4 linked regions of the Homo sapiens genome follow. The protein of the gene in region 1 interacts with the protein of each later gene in a pairwise test. Each region holds a gene or a part of one and is shown in the gene's direction. Other genes may lie near its edges. The genes, in order: TBRG4, FAM114A2, PTN and PRB3.

What was found.
Region 2: the proteins of TBRG4 (region 1) and FAM114A2 interact in binary tests that used the Homo sapiens proteins (3 or more experiments, as listed by UniProt).
Region 3: the proteins of TBRG4 (region 1) and PTN interact in a two-hybrid assay, tested with the Homo sapiens proteins (one large-scale study listed by BioGRID and IntAct).
Region 4: the proteins of TBRG4 (region 1) and PRB3 interact in binary tests that used the Homo sapiens proteins (3 or more experiments, as listed by UniProt).

Annotation. Positions count from the first base shown.
Region 1 is NC_000007.14:45,100,779-45,105,660, reverse strand, and holds part of TBRG4 (FAST kinase domain-containing protein 4), read left to right. Parts: coding exon 1-220; intron 221-618; exon of another isoform or gene 619-755; intron 756-951; coding exon 952-1,123; intron 1,124-1,178; exon of another isoform or gene 1,179-1,312; intron 1,313-1,404; coding exon 1,405-1,562; intron 1,563-2,217; coding exon 2,218-2,328; intron 2,329-3,169; coding exon 3,170-3,314; intron 3,315-3,590; coding exon 3,591-3,836; intron 3,837-4,046; coding exon 4,047-4,158; intron 4,159-4,288; coding exon 4,289-4,403; intron 4,404-4,882. UniProt on the Homo sapiens protein: Plays a role in processing of mitochondrial RNA precursors and in stabilization of a subset of mature mitochondrial RNA species, such as MT-CO1, MT-CO2, MT-CYB, MT-CO3, MT-ND3, MT-ND5 and MT-ATP8/6. May play a role in cell cycle progression.
Region 2 is NC_000005.10:153,999,556-154,004,437, reverse strand, and holds part of FAM114A2 (protein FAM114A2), read left to right. Parts: intron 1-1,468; coding exon 1,469-1,591; intron 1,592-2,047; coding exon 2,048-2,187; intron 2,188-4,882.
Region 3 is NC_000007.14:137,249,110-137,253,991, reverse strand, and holds part of PTN (pleiotrophin isoform 1 precursor), read left to right. Parts: intron 1-354; coding exon 355-528; intron 529-2,600; coding exon 2,601-2,762; intron 2,763-4,882.
Region 4 is NC_000012.12:11,265,968-11,271,496, reverse strand, and holds the start of PRB3 (basic salivary proline-rich protein 3 isoform 2 precursor), read left to right. Parts: upstream 1-1,789; 5' UTR 1,790-1,827; coding exon 1,828-1,891; intron 1,892-2,828; coding exon 2,829-2,864; intron 2,865-3,348; coding exon 3,349-4,304; 3' UTR 4,305-4,321; intron 4,322-5,467; 3' UTR 5,468-5,529. UniProt on the Homo sapiens protein: Acts as a receptor for the Gram-negative bacterium F.nucleatum.

The DNA of each region.
Region 1 (4,882 bases):
CCGCTGGCGCATGCGGAAGCTCAAGTACAAGCACCTGGCCTTCCTGGCAGAGTCCTGTGCCACCCTCTCACAGGAGCAGCACTCGCAGGAGCTGCTGGCTGAGCTGCTCACACACCTGGAAAGGCGTTGGACAGAAATTGAAGATTCCCACACATTAGTGACCGTCATGATGAAGGTGGGACACCTCTCGGAGCCACTAATGAACCGCCTGGAAGACAAGGTACTGGGCCTGAAAGCAGGTGGCACCCAGCCTGCCTCCCCTGGGCTTTGGGCTTGTTCTTTGGGTGACAGTTGTCTGCAGAGGGGTGCGTTGTGTGCACTGGGATCAGAGCCCTGGGAGCTTCTGTCTGGAGCCTCAGGCATCACATGGGGCAGGACCAGAGGGCTCGGAGCTGCAACAGGTGGTTGCCCTGTGGCTGCATTCATCAAGCACCACTTGCTCCTCCCAACACAGGCGCTTCCCTGATTGCACCTTTATCTTTCCCCCAAACCCCATCACAGCACGATCTTGAGAGGGGGGCATGGCAGGCAGCTCCTGAAGTAACACAGCTACTGCCCAGGCCTGGCTTCTGGCTAGAACTCTCCTGGAGATGTGCTAACCCCTATCGGCTGTAGCCCTGCAGTCAAGTCAAATTCAGTGCCCGTTTCTGTCATAGCGGGGGCTGGCCCAGATGGCTGCCACAGCAAGCTCCACAGCTCATGGGCCCTGGGTCACCTACCCTGGGACCTGGGGATAAGTTTGGCTGTGGACAGTGCTCCAGGTCCAGGGGTTCCCTGGGGTGGATGAGGAGGCAGGCCCTGCACAGTGGTCCTGTGTTTAGTCAGCTCAGGCCCAGTCTGACAGGGGCTGTCACAGGGGCTGCACTGGATGGGACCATGGGACCCCTGCCCCCAGCTCATCTCTGCCACCCCAGGCCATTGAGCTGACCTCTGCGCGGCTGTGGTTGACAGTGCCTGGAGTTGGTGGAGCACTTTGGCCCCAATGAGCTGCGGAAGGTGCTGGTGATGCTGGCAGCTCAGAGCCGGCGGTCCGTGCCCTTGCTGCGGGCCATCTCCTACCACCTGGTGCAGAAGCCCTTCTCTCTGACGAAAGATGTGCTCTTGGACGTGGCCTATGCCTATGGTGAGCCCTTTGGACAGAACGGTGGAGAGAGGGGAGCGCTGGCCCTGCAGATGCCTGCAGCCGTGTCAAATTCAGTACCTGTCCTATGCATGGTAGGCACTGGCCCAGAAGGCTGCCACAGAAACACTGTGACTCATGGGCCCTGTTCCTGTGTCCCAGGCTCAGGGATAAATTTGGTTACAGACATCAAATATCTAGACCTCGAGGCTGAGGTGGGGTGGAGCTGCTGGGTGATTGCTGACTCTCTCCAGCTAAACCCTGTGATCTGCTCTGTCCTGAAGGCAAACTCAGCTTTCACCAGACCCAGGTGTCCCAGCGCCTGGCCACCGACCTGCTATCCCTCATGCCCAGCCTGACTTCTGGTGAGGTGGCCCACTGTGCCAAGTCCTTCGCCTTACTCAAGTGGCTCAGCCTGCCCCTGTTTGAGGCCTTTGCCCAGGTGAGCCAGGGCCTGGCCCCAACTCAGAGAAGCTGGCTTCCTGGCCATCTGCTGGGAACCATTGCCTTAGTCGGGAAAGTAAAGCCAGTCTGAAAATGCTCACTTGTGGGGGCAAATACATATTTCTTGCATTTTGGCTTATTTTGAAAGGGCTGCTATTCAGTTCTCAAAAAAGTGTTTGAGAACTGTTTCCTCTGTTCTTTCACTGACCATTATAAGTGCTTCCATCCATTTTGGGGTAGCTGTAGCAGGTAGCAGCATGGCTGATGAGACTGAGAATCCACTGAGAACTGTCTACTGAATCACTGATCCCCCTCGCAAAGTGGAACTGTACAGAAAGATGACACCTGCAGTTACGTTTATGTGTGACCAGTCTAAACTAAGTTTACTGGTTGGAGAATATTTCTAAATCCCTTATCAGAAAGAAGCAGCTTCTAGGTGTCCCCAGCCTCTGTGGGTAGTTGCTGCCAGGCGAAGGAGTGTCTGGGCCTGTGTAAGTCCTTCTCTGTTCCCGACACAGCTCATGGGCCCTGGATGGAGGGTCCTGCCATTGCCCCTGGCCATGCAGGCTCTCCTCAGACTCAGAGCCAGGCAGGAGGACAGCGTGCTGGGCAGAGAGCTTATTCTGTCCCTCTGCTATTTCTGACCCACCCAGCACGTCCTGAACAGAGCGCAGGACATCACCCTGCCCCACCTGTGCAGCGTACTTCTGGCTTTTGCGCGTCTGAACTTCCATCCAGACCAAGAGGATCAGTTCTTCAGCCTGGTAGGGCCTCTGGGCTCCCACTGCTCGACCTTTATCCTCCCCTTCAGCTAATGGCTCATGAACCGTCCTCCCAAGATCAGCTCGGGCTAGGTGGAGGCGGGAGGGGCCACTATGTGTGGCATGGGAGGGCAGGGGGAACTGATTGGAGCCAGGCATCCTAGGGATTACTGAGAACACATGAAATCCTGCTGTCTGGTTGACTGCCCTGCCAGGCAGCGCTGGGGGGTCCTGCCTCTGGTGCTCCTTTTAATGCCCTGTTGATGCTCAGAAGCTCCAGTGGGCCTTCGTGCTATGTGCACCAGCTCAGGGCAGGAGGGGGAGCCTTCTTTATGAAGACCTTAGGACAGCCACAGAGGCCAGCAGGCCAGGTGTGATCCCAGGCTCCCTGGGATTCCATCAGGGGTTTGTCTGGCACAGTCCTGAGAACAATTAGCCAGGGGCTGGGGAGTGCTGCTTCACCTCTTGGATGCTCTCATCTCTCAGAGGACCAGAGATTCCTCCTTCCTTGTCCCAGGTGCTCACTTGGAGACATTATGGGAGAAGGGATCTTGTTCCCTGCCAGTAGGTTGGTTGTAGTAAACCTAATCAAATGCCAGCATTCAGCAGCACTCTTCTGCTGTTCAGAGTGGTCTTGGGGCATGAGGAAGATTCCTGGTACCTTCAAGCCCAGGATTGCTCCAGGCCTCACCAAGGGCCAGGGTTCTGCCTCTTGTTACCTAGTAGCCTCCTCTGGCCTCATCCCAACCAGGCCAAGACCACATCATGGATTGTGTCTCACCCATGGCTATTTGCAGCCCCTAAGGAGAGCCTGCTTTCTCCACCACACTCTATCCTTGCCCAGGTACATGAGAAGCTGGGGTCAGAGCTGCCAGGCCTGGAGCCAGCCCTGCAGGTGGACCTGGTGTGGGCCCTGTGTGTGCTGCAGCAGGCACGGGAAGCAGAGCTGCAAGCCGTCCTCCACCCTGAATTTCACATCCAATTTCTAGGTGAGCCCCCTGCCCCTAGTACTACTGGAACTGGGAAACTGCCTGGTCTTGTCTGCCTAGTGCCAGGTGAGAATTTGGGGCAGATGGAGGCCAGGGCTCTCCCTCCCCCTCGCTCTCCATCCTCTCCCTGTAGGTGGCCAGCAGACCGTAACTCTGCTGCCTCCTGACCCAGAAAACTGGGCTGGGACTGGGTGTAGGGGTGCACTGCCCTCTCATCAGGGTCTCCCCATCTCTGGCCGTAGGCCCACCTCCCTCTTCTTTCTCCTTGTCTCCTAGGGGGCAAGTCTCAGAAGGATCAGAACACCTTCCAGAAGCTGCTCCACATCAACGCCACTGCCCTGCTGGAGTACCCCGAGTACTCGGGTCCCCTTCTGCCTGCCTCGGCTGTGGCCCCTGGGCCCTCAGCCCTTGACAGGAAGGTGACCCCCCTGCAAAAGGAGCTGCAGGAGACGCTGAAGGGGCTGCTGGGGAGCGCCGACAAGGGCAGCCTCGAGGTGGCCACGCAGTATGGCTGGGTGCTGGGTGAGGGCTCCCCCTGGTTGGCACAGGGCCTGGCATTGCCTGAGTCTAACGGGACTCTTCTAACCCACCCCGTCTGCAGCAAGTACTGACCTAGGGAGCTGCAGGGTGTCAGCCTGGGCTCCCCACAGTCCCATCTTTGTTCATCTTTCCTGTGGGGGGGTTTCTGAGGGATGTCCCCCAACATGTTCTCATCCCACACCCCTTCCCCAGATGCTGAGGTGCTGCTGGACAGTGACGGCGAGTTTCTGCCCGTAAGGGACTTTGTGGCACCTCACCTTGCCCAGCCAACTGGGAGCCAGTCACCACCTCCAGGGTCTAAGAGGTAGGTGGCCAGGGACCTGTTGGCCATGGGGGCACCATGGCTGTTGGACTGCATATTCTTTGCTTTCCATCTTTCCCCTCCGAGGGGCTGGGAGAGTGGAAGCATGTCAGCCACCTCTTCTTCCTTCCAGGCTAGCGTTCTTGCGGTGGGAGTTCCCCAACTTCAACAGCCGAAGCAAGGACTTGCTGGGTCGCTTTGTTCTGGCCCGGCGACACATAGTGGCTGCAGGCTTCCTGATAGTGGACGTGAGTACCTCTTGGGCAGGTGGTCACTGCACAGGGAGAATCCCCAACCCACGCTAGAGAGGGGATCAGGTGGAACTGAGCCAGCAGGTATAGACACATGCCCTGCCCGTGGCCCCGGGCCTCTCCCAGGAGCCCAGGGAGGGAGTTTACTGTGGATCCTAGCTGCTCCAGCCTCCCCTCTAACCTTCCCAGCATCTCACCCCGTGGGTGAACCCAAAAAGGCAACCAAGCCTGCTTATTCAGCTTAAGAGGTGGGCAGGGTAGGGCCCATTCACAGATGAGCAGCTTGAAGCCCAAGAGGCTGCACAGCTGTTGGGGCTCTGAGTGCAGCTGCTCTGCCCCCTTGGTCAGCGCCTGTTGTCAGGAAAAGTAGGACCAGTGGAACTGGCAGGAGCAGAAAGATGCAGGTCTTGGGCCTGACTCTGGTTTCACACCTGGGAGACCTTGGTTAAGATCAAAGGTGGTCACCTTCCCTGGGA
Region 2 (4,882 bases), on another chromosome or scaffold:
TCAACAGCAGGTTGAGGATAGTTGAAACCACTGGCATAGGATGGATGGAGAGGGAATAGGATGAGACGAGTAAAGAGTGAAGGCTAGACCTCCAAATAATATTGGCGTTTAAGAGACTGGCCAGTTAGGATCAATATATAAAAGATACTGAGGAGAAATGGTCATAAAGGTCAGAGGAGAACAGAAGAAAGTTGGGGTTACAAAAACCAAAGAAAACTAGATTCATTATCAGGAGAATGGATAAATTGTGATATATACAATCATGCATTGCTTAATGATGAGGATATGTTATGAGAACTGCATCATTAGGCAGTTTTGTCATTGGGCGAATATCAGAGAGTGTACTTACACAAACCTAGCTGATGTAGCCTGTTACACACCTAGGCTATATCGTTTAACCTATTGCTCCTGTACAAAACTGTACAGCATGTTACAGTACTGAATACTGTAGGCAGTTGCAACACAATGGTATAGAAAAGGTACAGTAAAAATATGGTATTACAGTCTTACAGGACCACCATTATATATGTGGTCTGCTGTTGACCCAAACATCATTATGTGGTGCATGACTGTATATAAAATGAAATACTACACAGCAGTTAATATGAATGAACTAATACATGCAGCAACATGGATAAATCTAACAGACATTATGTTGTGCTTAAGCCAGACACAAATTAGAATGAACTTATATTTCTATTTTTATGCATTTTAAGATTAGGAAAAATTATTTATAGTGAGCAGAAGAGGGTTTGTCTTTGGGCAGGAGGAGGGGGACATGGTTTGAATAGTATTGGCTAGGAAGGGACATGAAGGGACCTTCTAGGGATGAGGAAATATTCTATATCTTGATCACGGTTTCGTAGGCATATACACATAAAAACATTTCTTAAGCCATACTCTGAAGATTTGTGCACTTTATGTAAATTATACCTTGGTTTTTTAAAAAGCTGATTAGAGGCCGGGCGCAGTGGCTCATGCCTGTAATCCCAGCACTTTGGGAGGCTGAGGCAGGGGGATCACCTGAGGTCAGGAGTTCGAGACCAGCTTGGTCAACCTGGCGAAACCCCGTCTCTACTAAAAATACAAAAATTAGCTGGGCGTGGTGGTGGGCGCCTGTAATCCCAGCTACTCGGGAGGCTAAGGCAGGAGAATCGCTTGGACCCAGGAGGCAGAGGTTGCAGTGAGCCAAGATTGTGCCATTGCACTCCAGCCTGGGCAACAAGAGCGAAATTCCATCTCAAAAAAAAAAAAAAAATACTACCAATTAGAGAATTTTGAAAAGGAATGATGGACCACAGTGATAAGTATTGCTGAGACTAGTAGGATAAGGACTGAAAAGCTAGATGGTACGTTCAGGTAAGAACAGGAGCCCTTACTTCTAGGATGCTATTGTGTTCCTGGTAGGTGCACAGTAATTTTGGTAAACTGAATTGAATTGTTGATGGCCAATATTTTTCTTATTTAGGCAAGAAATACCGCCCACGAATGGATCAGGAAGTCTCTGACCAAGCCATTAGCAGAGAATGAAGAAGGAGAAAAACAGTCGGAAGCAGAAAATACTGAGCAAGTCAACAAAAATTCAATAGAGGTAGCCAAAGCAACTAAGCCTTTTTTGTTTGTTTTAGTAGATTTGAAATGTGTCACAATCAGGGACCCAGGCTCCTATTTTTACACTGCTGTCCGTAATTTCAACCTTGTGATCTAGGATTGTAGCATCTTAGATCCAGACTATAAGATTAAAGGAGGAGTGAAGAAAAAAAGAGAGAAAGGATGCGCGTGTGTTTTGTCATGAGGAAGGTTCCCAGAAACTGCTGCCTGACACTTGTTATCTAAATCATTTGGCCAAAACTTAGTTACTTCGTCACACCTGACTTCAGGGGAGCCCAGCTGTAAAATTATATCACTACTGTGGAAGAAGAAGACACTCTTTATTGGAAGGCAACTATTAGTCTCTGCTACAAATCCTGTAGTATGAGAGAAGTAAGGTGGTATCTTTCCACCAAATGTTTTGTTTTGCTATGCTTTGTTTTGTTTTTCCATCCAGGATATCCATGCGTTTGCAATCCGGAGCCTGGCTGAACTGACTGCCTGCTCAATTGAACTATTCCACAAAACAGCTGCATTGGTTCTGCATGGCAGGAAGCAGGAAGTGACAGCCATAGAAAGGAGCCAAACTCTTTCCCAGTAAGTGTAATGAGAATTCCTCTAAATGATGCAAATTGCAGGAGTTTTCTTGGCCTGTTTCCAAAGTTTTATAAACGTCTCTCTCAAGAAACCATTCACGTCACACCCATCCACATATTAGATGGTTTGTTCATTTTGGTTGTTTTTTTCTTTTCATTGAACCATGATAAATCAATATTATAAATATGCCCTTTTTATTAACCAACTCATGCTCTGAAGACTATTTCTTTACAGATAAGTTTTAATAGGAATGGAATTTGGTATAAGTGAAAACAGAGAAGAGTTCTAAGAACCTCAGTTCTTAATAATAGTTATTATTGAGTGCTAATTTTATACCATTCCAAGTGCCATGCTAAGGGATTTGCATGTATAATTTCTAATTTTTATACCTCCAAAAGTAAGTAATTAGTCCAGTTTTAATCATGAGGAAATGCAAACTGGAGGAGTTAAGTAATCTGTCTGTGCTGTATGGCCTGGGATTTAGCCCCAGGTCTGACTGAGTGTCCTGAACCCATTCTTTTTTTCTCATTTTATTGCTGATTTGTACAAAAATTTTTCAAAAATAGTATAGATAATCATAGGTAGGGAAGAAAAAGCCCAGTAGTTTCTAAGCAAATGTCCTGATTAAAATAATGAGAATTTTCATTGGAAACAAATGTATAAGAGTGCCCATTATTAGAACTGGGAGGGGCTGTCAGTCTTCTGCAGACTTCCTCTTTACTTGCACCATCACCATCCCACTACAGCACCCCATAATAGGGGGCTAATTTGTCTTCTTGAACTTCCTTAAGGATGAGAGACTCACAACCCTAAAAGGAGCCTGTTCTGCGGAAAAGAGGCTATTTCTGCTACTTGGAATGTTCTTTGAAATGGGGTTCACTCCCTCTCTGAATTCAAGTCTACTCAAATGCCACCTTTTTAGAAAAGCCTTCCTTCACCACAAAGTCTAAAATAGCAACTTCCACCATTCTCTGTCCTTTTACTCTGCTTTATTGTCTTAGCTTATATCACCAAGTAGGACTTACATGTATATGAATATATATGTGTGTATATGTATACATATGTGTGTATGTGTATATATGTATATGTATATAGTCTCCCCCTTAATTTAGCAAGTAAGTTGAAATCCATGAAAACTGGGACTTTTCTTGTTCACTGATATGTTCCCATTGCTTGAAAGACTTTAAATAAAATCTGGCACACACAAGACTTTAGGTAACTATTATTAAAGATGGACTAATCACTTACTTTTGGAGTTGTTGTAAAAATTAGAAATGATACATGTAAATCCCTTAGCATGGTGCCTGGCATAAAATTAGCACCCAGTAACTAATAACTAATAACTAATAACTATTATTAAGAACTGAGAATTAATTAATACATATTTTAACTTTTCTAAATGGAATGTAGGGTATTTTGAGTATGATGTTGTCTCCTTAAAATGTATTTTAATTATTTTCTATTTGATTTAACTGGAACATATACTGCTTTCTAGAGAATTTTGTAGAGAAATGTTTTTCTAAGGACTGAACTTCCTTTTTATGTAGCATGAGTGCCTGCTCAGATGGGTCTTCTTATACCTCAGGTGGCTGATTTAGGCATACAGTAGTAACCCCTTATCTGTATGGGTTATGTTTTAAGTCCCTAGTGGATTCCTGAAACTGTGGATAGTACCAAACTTGATTGCCGTCATTTGGAACACATTTCCATTCATGTCTTCCACCCACAAATTTAATGCCTTTTCCGTCTTTTTAAAAAATATTTTACTGATACATAATATATATATATGGGGTACATGTGAGTGTTATATGCATAGAATGTATAATGATGAAGTCAGAGTATTTGGGGTATTCATCACCTTGAGTATTTATTATGTCTATATGTTGGTATCATTTCAAGTGCTTTACATTATTTTGAAATATACAAAATATTATTGCTAAGTATAGTCACCCTATTCTGCTATCAAACATTAGACTTTATTTTTTTCTATCTAACTGTATGTTTGTACTCATTAACCAACTTCTCTTCATCCCCACCCACTCACGCACCCACCTTTCCCCATTTCTGGTATCACAATTGTTCTGTTCTCTATTTCCGTAAGATCATGTTTTTTTAGCTCCCACATATGAGTGAGAACATGAGGTGTTTGTCTTTCTGTGCTTGGCTTATTTCACTTAACCTCGTGACCTGCAGTTCTATCCATGTTGCTGCAAATGACATTTTTTTTAAATAGCTGAATAGTATTCCATTATATGTGTGTGTGTATACACATATACATATATACACACACATATATATACACACACATACATATATACACACACACGCATACACACCACATTTTCTTTATCCATTTTTCAACTGACTTAGGTTAATTCTATATCTTTGCTGTTGTGAATAGTGCTGCAATAAACATGCAGGTGCAGGTATCCCTTTGATATAATTTATTTATTTATTTTCCTTTGGCTAAATACCCAGTAGTTTGGTAGTTCCATTTTATTTTTTGAAAAATCTTCATACTGGTTTTCATAGTGGTTGTACTAATTTACATTCTAACAATGTATAAGAATTCTCTTTTCTTGGAATTGTTGCCAGCATCAATTTTTTTTTTTTTTTTTGAGATGGAGTCTTGCTGTGTCACTCAGGCTGGAGTGCAGTGGCGCAATCTCGTTCACTGCAACCTCTGCCTCCTATG
Region 3 (4,882 bases), about 92 Mb from region 1:
TTTCTTCATTTTTAGGAGAACTATATTTTTGACCATCTCTTCTTTTATAGAAATGTTTGCTTCTAAAAGGAGATGCCACTAAATCACTTAGCACAGTCTCTGGCACATAGTAAGAGGGAGTTCAATTAATATTAGTTTTAGCTCTTTTCTCAGTTTTCTTTCTCTCTTCTCTTGATCATTCATTGGTTCAATAATTTGGTTAATATTCATCATGTTTCTACTATTCATTAGACAATAAGGATACAGATTAAAAAACACAGATCCTGCAATTAAGGTGCTCAGGAATGAACTTGGTTATATCTGGAAGTTAAGGAGTTTTCTGTATGTTGATTAGGTTTTCCTCCTTTCATTCAGAAAAAAAAGTGAAGAAGTCTGACTGTGGAGAATGGCAGTGGAGTGTGTGTGTGCCCACCAGTGGAGACTGTGGGCTGGGCACACGGGAGGGCACTCGGACTGGAGCTGAGTGCAAGCAAACCATGAAGACCCAGAGATGTAAGATCCCCTGCAACTGGAAGAAGCAATTTGGCGGTAAGCCTCATGCTACTGAGTTAATCTCCTACTCTGAGATAATTCTCAAATTTTTCCACCAAATGTCTTTTTAAGGATAAGTACTTTTTATTTTAAATAACTTTATCTTACCAGACACAAAGTGACCAGACTGGTCCCATTTCAGGCCAGGCAATTATTTGTTGTGGAGGCTGTCTTGTGCATTTTAGGGTATTTAGGAGCATCGCTGGCTTCTACTCGCTAGTTTCCGGTAGCATTCCTCACCCGCTCCAGATGTGAAAACTAAAAATGTCTCCAAATATCTATGGCCAAATGTACCCTGTTGGTCAAAATCATCCCTGGTTGGGAACCACTGCCTTTCCAAAGGGACATAAAATATATCCTTGATTCCTCTGAATAATGTTAATTGATCTGTCTTCTCTCTCCTTTCTTCTATTTCTAAGTTCCTTTGATTTTTCCTTTCCCCTTTTCTTATTTATTCTCCTGCTTCTCCATGTTTCTCCCTGTCACTTTCAGACCTTCTCTCCCATTTGATCCCTCCCCAACCTCCACACAGTTTCACAGATTCACTTACTGAGTTCAGCAGGGCTGCTCACAGCCACGTTTCATAAATCTTTCTCCCACTGACTGGAGTCAGTCTTATGCTGGCCTGATCTATCTATCTGAGACAGGATCTCTCAACACTTTCAACTTTATATCCAGTATTGAACCCTCAAATAACCTCTTCCACAATCCAGACTTTTTGTCTTTCTTAGCCATAGTGGGACATGATGCCTGAAATGTCCTATCTGTGTTCTATGGAAATGCATTGTGGCCCATAGACAAGTGAGGAAGGATAATGGATGTATACATGTATGTCTTTTTCTCCCTCTGTAATCTTTGGGGTATTTTTTATTTGAATGGATATAGACAAGTTCTATAAAAGTGTGATGGAGAACAGGTACATTTGGTCTTAAATTGTATATGGGCACCTTAAAAACCCACTTACAAAAAGTTTAAAAGGTATATCTTAAAGACTTACATTGAGAATATTAAATAACTCTCAAACTCAACAGTAAACAACAAAACAACAACAACAAAAAACAAAACAAACAAAACCTAACAGTTCAATAAGAAAGTGGGGAAAAAACATTAACAGACATTTTACCAAAGAGGATATATAGGCAACAAATGAACTCCTGAAAATATATTCAGCATCTTTTCCTTATTAGGGAACTAGAAATTGAAACCATAATGAGATATCACTCTACATCTATCAAAGTGGCTAGAATAAAAAATAGTGACAAGACGAAATGCTAGTGAGGGTGCCAAGAAACCAGATCCCTCATATGTTGCCAGTGGAAATTGTAAGGTGGTACAGCCACAGTGGAAAAAGAGTATTGCAGTTTTTTACGAAATGAAACATGCATTTACCATGTAACACAGCAGTTTCTTGGTAATTTATCTCAGAGAAATGAAAACTGATGTTTCCACAAAAACCTATACATGAATTTATATAGCAGTTCTATTTGTAGTAACCCAAGGCTGGTAACAACTCGGATGTCCTTCAGCTGATGAATGGTTAAACAAACTGGGGTACATTGGGACCATGGAATACTACTCAGCAATAGGAAGAAACAGACTATTGATGCACATGACTTGGATGGATCTTCAGGAAATTATGCTAAATAAAAAAGCCAATCTCAGAAGTTTACATATTGTAGAATTCCATTTATGCAACATTTTTAAGCTAGAAAAATGATAGAGCTAGAGAACAGATAAGGAGTTGCCGGGGATTAAGGAGGTGGGGAAGGAGGAAGGTGGCTAGGCCATGACTATAAAGAATGACCCACTGTTGTATTGGGACTGTATATTAATAGTGTATATTAGTGTGTATTAATGGTGTATATTGATGGTGATCGTATGCATCTACACATGTGATAGAATTGAACAGAAATCAATACACACGCATACACTCTGTATTATTTCTTATAGCTGCATATGGATCTATAATTATTTCAATAAAAAAGTTACAAACAAAAGTGTGCCTTTATTATCCTGGAAGTACGATAGGATCTTTCAAGGATTTCTGTTTGGTTCTACCCTGCCTTTAGCGGAGTGCAAATACCAGTTCCAGGCCTGGGGAGAATGTGACCTGAACACAGCCCTGAAGACCAGAACTGGAAGTCTGAAGCGAGCCCTGCACAATGCCGAATGCCAGAAGACTGTCACCATCTCCAAGCCCTGTGGCAAACTGACCAAGCCCAAACCTCAAGGTAAGTCCTTGCCATTATACCACAATTTTAATGGATTGATGGACTCAGGTAAGATCTGGAAAACCCACATTTTCCAGAAGGAAATATTAGGTGAATTACCTTAAGAAAGTGACTGAAAAACTCCCCTACACTGAGAGTCACAAAAATACTTTAAAAATACTTTGAAGCAGGCAGCCTGTGAGTGCAAATTGAAGTCCTCTGCATAGATGAGGGGATTGGTACAGTCTCCTAACCCAAATAAATAACATAGCAAAAGAAACCAGCAAAGACAGTTGTATGATGACCATATATTCCACACTCTTAATTGGAACTGTATCCTGACAAGAAAAACAAACTCAGAATGTTTATGACGGAGACAATTTTAAATCAAACTTCTCCCAGATTATCTGAAATATAGTTTTCACAAAATCAGGAAAATTATTTTACATTTTCCCTTTATTCACTGCATAACTTAATGGGTTCTGCATTTGTTTTCAGAGCCTTTATATTTTTTGAGTTCAATTTGGTTACCAACTACATTCATCACAGAATTTTTAAATGACAGAGATCTGTATCTCCCAGAAAGTCAGGCTCTGCTCTCTTGCTGGAGAAGGTAAAAACAATCATTATGGCCATGAATTCATACATACAAGGATCCCAACTGAGGGAAATAAACTCTTTCATCATGGATGTTATTGTCTGAATTGTGTTTTCCCAAATTCATATGCTGAAGTTTTAACCCCCTCACAATGTCACTGTATTGGAGACAGGGTCTTTAAAGAGGTAATTGAGATAAAATGCAGTCACAAGGGTAGGCCCTAATCCAGTGCAGCTGGTGTGTTTATAAGAAGGGAGATTAGGACACAGAAATACATAGAGAGAAGACTGTGTGAAGACAGAGGGAGAAGAATGCCATCTACAAGCCATAGGGAGAACCTTCAGAAGAAATCAGCCCTACAGATGCCTTGATCTTAGGCTTGTAGCTTCCAGAACTGCAAGACAATAAATAAATAAATTTCTGTTGTTTAAGCCACCAACTCTGTGGTACTTTGTTATAGGAGCTATAGCCAACTAATACAATGGGACTCAATGAACTCTAAATTCAAATACCTTCTTGGCCTCTACTCATATATTTTAACTCTAAGGTGGTCCTGAAAATTCATACTGCCAGAGAAATTGTAAGGAGAGATTCAGAAAAATGACCATGTAAGAAATGCTCATAATAAATAAAAGTAGAAAAAAAAAATCTGCAGAAGGTGATGGAGATTGGCTGGTTTCCTGCTGGTGGCCAGAAAGGACTTTATTTTTCACAGGCCTGGCTTTTTGGCCACTGCTGGAGTTGTCCATAGAAATAGTTATCTCCAACTTCAGGATGGCCAGGTACAGGCTGGACCTGCAGGTGGTGAGTCTAGGGTTCAGGCTGCCCTTTCCAGATCATGGAAATCTCTGCCTGTTGTCATATGGTTTTTGGAAGGCATGAAGCAGGGCTGGAGTGACTGCAGTGAGTACTTATGCAGACTTCCCAAATGTCATTTGTCCAGAGACAACCACATAAATCTAAGCAAAATCAGTGCCCTATCTACCAAGTGAAACATTTCCAAAAATGGCAAAACTCAGAGTTACTGTAGTCAAAATAATTTATTTTTAGTCCAGCTGTAGAACCAAAATATTCAGCATAAATACAGAATTGAAAGGAAAAGAAATTAAAGAAGCTTCCACATTCTAGCACAGTGATGCTCAACCTGGGCTTCACATTAGAATATTCTGTGGGAACTTGCAAAACTCCCAGTGCCCAAGTATAGCACAGACTAACCCAATCAGCATCAGTAGTTTAAAAATTGTGAATGCATCTCAGAAGGTTTCATGATGCAGCCAAAATTGAGAACTACTGCTCTAGTATGGAATCCATTGACAAGAGACCACACACACATGCATACACATGTAACACACACACACACACACACACACACACACACACGTGCACTGTCCTGTTCTTTCCTATGGGAAAGAGAAAATTCAACTTTATAATAAGGGAGAAAAAGTGGGGACATGATTAGGTGGAAGATGGTGGGGCTGGGTGAACACATAAAATGTTGAAAAGTTTGGAATAAATGGGACACAGCAGGGAACATGATTAAGAT
Region 4 (5,529 bases), on another chromosome or scaffold:
AGATAAAACTCATGAAGACTAGCTAGAACCAGTCCACTTTCCATAGAGCCAGAAATAATTTCCAATTAATAATATATTCCCCTTTCAAGTATGTCTATATTTTTGCCAGGGAAAATATCAATCTTCCTGGTTCCCTTGCAAGGGCAAAGTTATCTGTAGCAAAGCCTTCTGTATTAGGAAGTCTTCCTGTACTATTACCCCCAACTCTTCAGAAGGGCCAGACCAGACCCTCATCTGCACAGTCCAGGATCCACTCATCCACAATGGTCAAGAGGTCTGTCTTTAGGATTTACTGTCACATACCCTCTCTACCTCCATCATACCTCCAGCCAAGCTGTCCTCAAATTAATACCAGCCATGCACAAAATGTGAACAATTACACAAGACACACAGAAGGTCTAAGTGGTAAATGGCAGCTGACTCACTGACTAACCTGTATATTCCATGAACTGATGAGCAGGGATTTACTAGGTATAACAGAAGAATCAGCAGCTAAAAGAAGTGCTAACAATGCAGGACTCTGAGAGGGCTTTTTGGAAACACAACATTTATTGTGAAATTACACAGACAAGAATGAAACAAAGGTGGTGAGAATTATAGCTTATTACTTAGAAGATTAAATAAAGGAAATCTTACCAAATTCCTGGGGAAAAAAGCCAGATATATAAAGAAAATTACACAAAATGAGCTTGACTCAGAAAATAAAATATGAACAAAGAAGTACCAGAAAGAACGTCAGGGAGGAATGCATATCAGAATATTGTAGAAAAAATACTCTTTGTGGAAGAACAATCTGAGAAAACAGGTAACACAAATACTGACTAAACCAAGAAAACCAATACAATGCAATTGAGGCTTTAATGAGGGTATCTGATTACCTTATTTGAATGTAGAATTGTAGCCACTTAATTATCAGAGGTAGGAATTCAATACAATTCTTAAAAGAAATGAAGCAGAGGGTGAATTTTGTAGAATATTCTAGAGAAAGGGAAGAGCATGAAGGAAGTTTTGGCAACATGATATTGCATGGTTCCTGCAAGGAACTATATATTCAGTTTTCTCAGGTCTAGAAATTTCCTCGTGGTTTGTGTGTCCATTTTGCATTCATAACCCCTAAAGATACTTTAAAATACACAATTTTGGCCTTCCTGTGTTTCACAACAAGAAGCCTTTCCTGACTTGAGTGAGATCCACAGAAGCATGAACAATAGCTGTAGCCTGAGTAGGCTGTGAGGCAGCCTTCTGTCATCTGTGTGCCCAGGAGTGTGCTGTCCTCAAACATCTCCCAGATAGCAGAAACTATCTCTATCGCATCAAAAGTTAAGCTAAATGTGATACTCTCTGTACACACACATCACGAGAGATGGAAATAGGCTATAAAAACAGCCAGAGATATTGATCATCATCACCGCTGGCTGTAGCTTCACTGCCCACACACACATACACAGAAATAAATAGCAAAGTTGAAAGTGGACAATAGTCTTACCAAAAAGATTGAAACTCTAATGACGTCTGAAGTTCAATTATGACACCGTGCTGATTGCTTGGACACAGTTCCTTTAAAACCTTTGTTCAAGTCATAGTTGTACCTTTTAGAAATAAGGTACAAACAACATCCAACCCAACCTGTTCCTCTGGGCTAGAGTCCCAGACAGAAATAAGGGATACACCTGACCTGCAGTAAGGAAAGCAGAACCCAGTCTCTGGGGTGGTGAGGCCCACCCAGTGTGGAGCTCAAAGGTGCCACTGTTCTGCTCCTCTTTATAAAGGGAGCTGCCATGGTTCTCCCAGCACAGAGTTGGGAGTGACTCCAGAGCCTCCAGCAAGATGCTACTGATTCTGCTGTCGGTGGCCCTGCTGGCCCTGAGCTCAGCTCAGAGCTTAAATGAAGGTAAGACAGAAGGAGGAGAAGATGTGGTGACTCTGCTTGGGGCTTAGGAGGTGATAGTTGTAATTATGGGGAAGAGAGGAGAATGAAAACACAGATGGGGCTGCAGAGGTTTCATGCCTAGGATCAGGAGACCTGTTGTGCCCTCATTCCACACCAAGGGCTTCTAATTTATTTAATGTACAATGAAAATCCAATAAAGAATTTGTACCAGGGGAATGAGAAGGTAAGATTTGCATTTATAGAGAGATAGAACTGTGCTGTGAAGGATGCAGTGGTGAATGCAAGGCAGATTCAGGAAAGTCCAGCTGTGAAGATCCTAAACTGATCTCAGTAAGTACACAGGGATGATTGTGGCCTTGCTCTACCTAGTGGATCAGCATTGATGATGGAGATAAACACACATTAGAGATACTGCAGAGACAGAACTGGATAAAACACTTGCCTGTGTCTAACTACAGATATAGAAATATCAGATTCAATCATTGTGATTTTTCTTTCCCCTACACACAGTATTTCAATGTGCTGGGAGTGGTATAGGTAAGATTGTATTGAAACAATTACTTCTGGTTACCGAAATTGAGAAAGCTTGTGAATATAAGCAATGTATTTATAGGAGATGGAGGGCATAAGAATACCAAAATATCACATTGAAGTACCTGGCATGTGTAAACTAAATTAGCATTAAGTCTTGAAGGATGCTAGGGAAGAAAAAAAGGGGCTCTTCTATATTGAGTTCATGGCTGTTGCTCTGTGTGGTAACAACCCTGCCTCCCCTTACACCTTCCTCCCCTTCCAGCAGCTTCACAGATGGTAGCTGATGAGCTAACCTAGGGGATGCATGGGGTGTGGTGAGAAGTCCCCTTTCCCTGTAGAACACCTGTGAATCTTGCAAAATTCGAGATGTAACCTTTCCCATCATCCTGTGCTTCTCTTCTAGATGTCAGCCAGGAAGAATCTCCCTCCGTAATATCAGGTAAATCCCAATTCACTCTCAATCTGTTTTAACTATCTTCTTCTGCTTATGAATGGATCAGTTCTCCAGTGTCTTCTCACCAACATTTTCCTTTAGAAATTGATTAATATTAGTCCCCCTAATAATGCAGGCAATCTTCATGCAACCTTGATTTTGGGGACCATGAGCAGGGCCACCAAATTGAATGGCAGAGATGCTTGGCTTAGATGAAAACGGGAGTGGGTTGACTTCCCTCCTGCCAGGAGTGCCTGCTGGGAGATGACAGACAAATGGCCAGTGTCCTTATTCTGACTCCTCCTTAGACTGAGAGCCCCTCAACTGCTTCCTTCTTCTCCAGCATTCCACTCCAGAGTTCTAGAGCTTCACTGAAAATGCAAAGAAATTAGTGTCTGGGTCTTATTTTTGTGCATTTCCCCATTTAGCTGCGTTACTGTAAAAATTTGCGGCAACTATTCAGTGAATGCCGTGTGTCCACCTCCTCCAGGAAAGCCAGAAGGACGACGCCCACAAGGAGGAAACCAGCCCCAACGTACCCCACCTCCTCCAGGAAAGCCAGAAGGACGACCCCCACAAGGAGGCAACCAGTCCCAAGGTCCCCCACCTCGTCCAGGAAAGCCAGAAGGACCACCCCCACAAGGAGGAAACCAGTCCCAAGGTCCCCCACCTCGTCCGGGAAAGCCAGAAGGACAACCCCCACAAGGAGGAAACCAGTCCCAAGGTCCCCCACCTCGTCCGGGAAAGCCAGAAGGACCACCCCCACAAGGAGGAAACCAGTCCCAAGGTCCCCCGCCTCGTCCGGGAAAGCCAGAAGGACCACCCCCACAAGGAGGAAACCAGTCCCAAGGTCCCCCGCCTCGTCCGGGAAAGCCAGAAGGACCACCCCCACAAGGAGGAAACCAGTCCCAAGGTCCCCCGCCTCATCCGGGAAAGCCAGAAGGACCACCCCCACAAGGAGGAAACCAGTCCCAAGGTCCCCCACCTCGTCCGGGAAAGCCAGAAGGACCACCCCCACAAGGAGGAAACCAGTCCCAAGGTCCCCCACCTCGTCCGGGAAAGCCAGAAGGACCACCCCCACAAGGAGGCAACAAACCTCAAGGTCCCCCACCTCGTCCAGGAAAGCCAGAAGGACCACCCCCACAAGGAGGAAACCAGTCCCAAGGTCCCCCACCTCGTCCAGGAAAGCCAGAAGGACCACCTTCACAAGGAGGCAACAAACCTCAAGGTCCCCCACCTCATCCAGGAAAGCCACAAGGACCACCCCCACAAGAAGGTAACAAACCTCAACGTCCCCCTCCTCCAGGAAGGCCACAAGGACCACCCCCACCAGGAGGCAATCCCCAGCAGCCTCTGCCACCTCCCGCTGGAAAGCCCCAGGGACCACCTCCACCTCCTCAAGGGGGCAGACCACACAGACCTCCCCAGGGACAGCCTCCCCAGTAATCAAGGTTCAATGACAGGTATGATTCCAGTTTATTCTTCACCAAGTGCTCTAAGTGTTACAGTTCTCCAACTTTATTGTGCCAATGAATCAACTAAAAACCCATTGACATTGTATTGTCCTAGAACCCATTTCTAAAGATTTGTATTCAGATACTCTGGAATAGGGTAAGAAGACCCTGTATTTCTAACAAACTCTTTAAGGAACTCTGATGTTGAGAAACAACATACCATACAATCTGTCTTAAATTGTGTTGGCAATGAGGAAGTAGTACCATGTCCATTCTTGGTGCTCTGCTTTCGGTCCACAAACTCAGAGATATTGCATTTAAATTTTTCACCTGAGCACTGTTTGCTCATTCCTGCCTCACGCCAGCCTCTCGAGTCCAGTATTCCTGCCAAATGGTCCCTGATCTTTCAGCAGCTAAATGGTGTCTCATTTTTTACATACTTAGTTTTCAGTAAGTACATGATTAAGCTAACAAAAGATATCTAATGGAATGGAAAAATATGAAGTTAATTTTAAAGGCGTAGCTCATCCTACTCACCTTCCTTCCTTCAAAAAGCTACCACTGTTGACTTTATGGGATCTTCTCTTTGAAATATTTATGTGTGCATAGACATACAGCATTCTTTTACCCTACCACTAATACCATAACTTATATGCAGGTATATATGGTAGTCATTTAAAAATACACTTCTTGAAAATTTCCACATCAGTTTATGAAGCTAAATACATCTCTTCAGTGGTTTTCTGTTTGCTTTTACAATTTTATGCTACTCCATTGTGTGGCTGCACCATGATTTCTTTAATCAATCCCTGTCACTGGATACTGAGGGTGGTTTCATCTTATCACTATTATAAAATAGGTTCTGATTATCATATGTGTAAATATATCCCTGAACAAATTCAACAGCAATGAGTCATAACAACCTAAGGATGATCTTTTCTCTTCATCTTCTCAGCAACAATTTGGAGCACATTGTGTGCAAGGGCATCAAAAGAGTGAACACAGAAAAAATCAGGAAAGAATCACAGGAGGTTGAAGGGATTGGGGAGAGAGGATGGGATCTCATGTACTCTACTGCAGTAACACCAGTGAGGAATTCGACATTTCCTGCCATGTCAAGTCTGCTCTATGAAATTCCTTGTTTGTTTGTTTCAGGAAGTGAACAAGAAGATGACAGTGATTCAAATGATTCAAATGCCATGACATTGGAAGAAGGT